Linked DNA regions of Homo sapiens: region 1 is linked to region 2. Evidence: fine-mapped expression QTL. Tissue or cell type: nucleus accumbens. Region 2 holds a variant in brackets; the other region holds the start of a gene. All regions are shown on one strand. Distances are from middle to middle.

What was found. PIP is the estimated chance that this variant, and not a neighbour inherited with it, causes the effect.
Region 1: it holds the start of GPRIN2, and the variant in region 2 is fine-mapped to the expression of GPRIN2 in nucleus accumbens (GTEx, PIP 0.94).

The regions. Positions count from the first base shown.
Region 1 is chr10:46,555,189-46,557,873 of GRCh38, reverse strand. It overlaps GPRIN2 (G protein regulated inducer of neurite outgrowth 2), which reads left to right and starts at 1,216. Exons shown (of 3, transcript NM_001385282.1): 1 at 1,216-1,376. RefSeq lists enhancers at 1-474, 1,180-1,885.
Region 2 is chr10:47,180,269-47,182,953 of GRCh38, reverse strand. No RefSeq gene overlaps it. Among named protein-coding and RNA genes, the nearest start is that of GDF10, 120 kb to the left of the region's middle. The variant A/G (reference allele first, on the strand shown) is at 1,484.

The DNA.
Region 1 (2,685 bases), 630 kb after region 2:
AACGGAGAAGTGCCAACATTGGGACCCAATTATGTGATACTGGGGCCCAGAGATAGTACAGGTGCCTCATACCACGTGGCCCTGGGTGGACAGCAGGAATCTATTGCGAGTGGCGGGAGGCCGGGGCTGCCTGTCCTGCGCCCTGAAGCTGGCCAGCGGTTGTGGAAACTGGGGGATATTGAGGGAACCGTAGGCCCAGGTCCTCAGCCTCATAGTGTGGAACCTGGCGATCCCAGGGCCTGGGCTGGCCCCCGGCGTCACGGGACCGGGAAGGCGCTGTGGTGCTGCGGGGAATTGCGGAGAAGAAGGCGGGCTCCAGTGGAGGTGGCTCATCCCCGCACGGTCACTGCCCTCGCCCGCTGTTGGGGTCCGCGGCTGGGAGACTGAAGGCCTCAAGTCGGGCTGGGTAGGGGCACGTGGGCAGGGAAAGGGGTGGTAGATTACCAGTCTTCAGGGGCGGGGCTGGAGATGCAACCCTAGGGAAGGAGTCTACCAGGCTGGGCTCTTGAGGGGCAATGGAGGGCTCCGGGGGCCAGGCCAGGCCAGGATCATGGAGTTCAAAGGACTGGAGTGAGGTTTGGGGTCCATGAGAGTGGAGCTCAGAGGATGGGACGGTGGGTCCAGGATTTGGGACCTGGGGCTGGAAAGTCCGAGGCTAGTGGAGACCAGGCCTGGTATCCCAGACGAAAGGGCCCTATAGGAAACGGGGTCTCGTGGGCGGGATCTGGAGCCAGAGAATTGTGAGAGGCGGAGCTAGGATGGAGAAGGCGAGAGGAAAGGGGTAGCCGCCGGCGCGGAGACCTCAATGCGGGGCGTGGTGCGGAGGGGGAACTGGAGCGAGGGGCACTGGAGCGAGGGGGTGGGGCTACGAGGAGGTGGACTTGAGGGGCTGGGTCTGGGGCCGGAGAATCGTGGGGAGCTGCGCCTATACACCCGGGACGGTGGGGTTGCGTCGGGGAAGTGGGAGTCTTGGGGGTTCGCTGGGCAGCCTGGAGAACAGGCGGTCGTGGTGCGGGCGGGGCCGAAAAGACCGAGGACAGTGGGGACCCGGCCTGAGGAGGGGTCGGGAAGGAGGGGTGGGGGCGCGCGGACGCAGATCCCGGGCCGCGGCGGGGCGGTGGCAGGCTCCAGAGTGGCACGGGCCCAGGTGAGCGAGGTCTCCGCCCGCCGCCCCTCCCGCCGCCCCGGTGCCAGCTGCCCCGCTGGCCCCTCCCTGTACCCGGCGCTTGCTCCGCGGGCCGGGCCGACGGCGGCGGGCGGCGTCTCGCGCCCAGGCCAGGTCGGCTCTGGCTCCATCTTGGGCCGCGGCACCTGGCACCTGTGGCGGCCGCAGGAGCAGCGCTTCCCCCGCCTGCGCGGCCCCGGCGGGCGAGAGGGTGAGAGGCTGGCTCCGCGCGCTCCCGTTGGGGCGGGGGGCGTGGTGGGCGGCACCTCCCCCTTGCTGAGCCTCAGAACCCACTCCTTCCCGCTGCCTGCGCTCAGACCCCCGGCATCCTGGCCCCTGCCCAGCGCCCAGAGCCCCCGGTGGCCGCATCGCACTCCCCGCGCTCCGCCTCTCATTGTCCTGTCCTGTCCCCTCTTCTACGTCTCCTCTGCCCATCCTCCCATTTTCACAAGTCTGTCCGGGACCCTGTCTCCTTCGGCCTCCACCCCTGCTGCCATCGCTCCTCCCTCTCCCCTTCTTCCTTTTCCCCTCCCTCAGCCTACTGCGCCGCCTACCCCGCCCCCAGCCTTGCTGCCCTTTGGCTTCTCCTGTCCCGCATCATTACCCCGGCCCACAGCCCCATTTGCCTGCAGTCGCTGCCTTTGCTCCTGAGAAGGTCTGTAGCCTCGTTTCGGGCCCGTATTGAGCCCCCTTCTCCCTAAGTCCGGGTGGGCTTTGTGCAGGAGGGGCGGGAGGGGAGCTATTCTGGGCGAGGCTGCGTGGTGCGGTGCTTTCAGGCCTTTGGCCCCGCAGCAGGGGCGGCCTGTGCTTGGCGTGCAGAGTGCAGCTGGGTAGACGCTGTTACTGCATACGGGCCTGTGTGTCCCAGGCTGGGGCATGAGTGCTTGTGAGCGTGCAGATAGGGACACACCGGCCGCCTAGGCTGCTTCTAGGCCGGGGCACCCTCTCCACCTAGGTGCCCCCCAGGGATTGTGGGCAAATCCTCCCCAGGGGAGGAAGCTCAGGGGCTGTTGGGCGCCTAGGCCTCTTCCTGGTGAGCAGAGCCTCATCCATGGGGCCACTGACCCCACAGTTACCCCAGAACCCTTTCCTGGCACAGCTTGTGACCCGGGGCATGTAGCCCTTAAGGCACGTTCATTGTGAAGGGCAGGTTTTGTCTCCTCCAAACCCTCCCTTTAGGAATGCTGCCTGCTGCTTTGCCCAGAGTTGGCCCTGAGTGTTCCTATCAGGCCCCGTTCACTCTGGGGTGGATTAAACCACCTCCTGGAGGGTGCTGTATCCCCACTGTGCAATGGGGGTTTGTGCTGTGTGCATTCCTGCCTGGTCCTTGAGAGGTAAGGTCCATATTTTAACATAGAACCAGTTTTCCTGCCTGATCATATAGGTTTGCTTTTCCTGTTTTGGTTTTGCCGGACACATAAGTCATCATCCAAATGCTTGCCACTTAACTAGAGGGGACTTGGGCCAGGCGCTGTGGCTCATGCCTGTAATCCCAGCACTTTGGGAGGCCGAGGCAGGTG
Region 2 (2,685 bases):
GCCAATGTCCAGCCATTTATAATTTACTTAATATTTTCTTTAAATTGATCCACTCATACTGCCTACATAAATAGAATTTAAAAGGAAACTTTATACCACAAGTATAAATAGGAAACTATTAATACTTGCCATAAGTAGAAGGGAACTATATTTTAAAATACAATGAAAATAAAGCAAGTTTATTAAATTCTAGCAGGACACTGTTTTGCCAAGTTTCTCAGATTGAAACTGTTCTCTCTTTGTTAAACAGTGAAATTATCATGTGTTAGAGCAGTGTTACAGACATGCCTTTGGGAATCTAAAGAGAACTAGAAAGAGAATCACATTCACATTACAAAAGTCAGTGTTATTTTATTCATTCAGTTACTAAATACCCAGCAAGTGGTTGAGTGGAGTGGATAGTTCTTAGGACTACAAAGGCAAAATTAAATATAATCCTGTTTCCTTGTAGAGCTCATGATCTAGCAGAGAAGACTGACAAGGAACAAGTAAATAAATTTTAAAAAATCAACTTCAGTTTGTGGGAAGAAAAGAAAGCAAAGTATGTGCATAGAGAGGAGTATATTTTGAGTAGGTGTGTGTTGCAATGTGGGGACTGCACCTAGAGTGACCTTCATACTGAGTTTGAGACTCCAAATGGATATTTGAATGGTGACCTGAACTGGGTCTATGTGGAAAGGCTGGGGCTGAAATGATAAATTTAGGGATAGCAGTAGCATAGATGGTGTTCGAAGCCACAGGCCCAAATGCCTAGGTGGCACACGTGCATGAAGGGTGGGATCTGAGGGCTGAGCCCTTGGTCCCCCACATTAACGAGTCAGGAAGGAGAGAAGGAGCCAGCCAGGGAGATGAAGACAGGCAGACCCCTGTGGTCTTCCGTGGTTCTGTGGAAACACAATGAGAGTGCTTGGAAAGGATGGAGCGATTGACTAAAAAACGTTGCTGAGGCATTGAGTCAGATGAGGACCCTTGGGTTTGACAAGATGGCAGCACTTTTGGTGGGACAGTAAGAGTGAACACCTCATTGGAGCGGGTTAAAGAGAGGACAGGGAGCGAGGAAGGGGAGACAGGGAGCACAGTCTTCTCTTGACTTTTTCAATAACAGTGCTGGTGTTGAAGAACTCATCTGCCTGCAGCAGCTCATGAGCCACTCGAAATCAAACTGTGGATCACATGGCCTGAAAATCCACCCTGGATACCCAACCCCTGAGACAGGTAACACCCCCAGGAGGGTGACTTCTAGGTTAGTTTTCCCCCAGGAAGGGTCTTTCCTCTCTGGGAGCTGGGGACCCGGGGGCCCGCACTCAACACAGACGTGTATAGCAGCAGGGCAGGCCCATGCCAGGGCCACACGGCCGCACACAACCCGGGCCCTTATCCCAGAGCACAGTGAGGCGCCGGGCTAGTCATGCTGCAGCATGGATATTTATTGATCTTGATTCACACGATCCAAGAAAAGCTTGGCCACAGAGCCTTTGGTTCA[A/G]TCACAAGGATATGGGGGTTGGGCATGGGCGAAAGAGAAGGAAATGGAATTTAAAGGAATCTGTCTTTAAGAAAATAACTCTTTGTAAACCTGATTTATGGGAGCCTGTGCATGCAATAGTGAAATGCTCTGTAACTCCTTGGAGGTGGTGTGAATAGGGGTTCTGTTAGCCACTGGCGGGACCTCCAGAAGCAAAACATGCCAGGGGGATGGAAGAGCGGCCTTCCTGGAGTCAATCTCTAGCAGGGCCTGCGAGGAAGTGGGGCTTCCTCCTCCAGCCCTCGGACGGCAGCCTGGGAGACGGGAGAGCGCTAACATTGATGTGCATTTTTATTTTGAATGAACAGAGCAATTAAAGTGCACCAGGGCCAGATTTAAGTTTTCTCCTTGGGCTGTTTCGAAGCTGCCTTCAGTCTGACCTCATCTGCACCCACACATTTCCTTTTATAGATATATATATACAAAAGATATAAATACATATATAAAATATATAAATATATATAATATATAAATATATAAATATATATAACATATAAATATATAGAAAATATATAAATATATAAAATATAAATATATAAATATATATAATATATATGAATATGTACATATATACATATAAATATATAAAATATAAATATATAAATATATATAATATATATGAATATGTACATATATACATATAAATATATAATATATAAATATATAAATATATATAAAAATATATATAAATATAAAAATATACATAAATATAAATAAATATATACATATATACATATAAATATAAAAATATATAAAATATATATAAATATATATAAATATATAAATATATGTAAATATATGAATATATAAATATATGTAAAGATATAAATATATAACTATATATAAATATATAAATATATAACTATAAATATATAAATATAAATATATAAAAATGTATAAATATATATATCTATAAATATATAAATATATATAGCTATATATAAATATATAAAAATATATAAACATATAAATATATAAATATATAAAAATATATAAACATAAATATATAAATGAATAAGTAAATATACATAAATATATATAAATATATATAAATAAATAAATATATAAATATATAAATAAATATATATGAATATAAATAAATATATATAAATATATAATAATACATATAAGTATATATAAATATATAATAAATATATATAAAT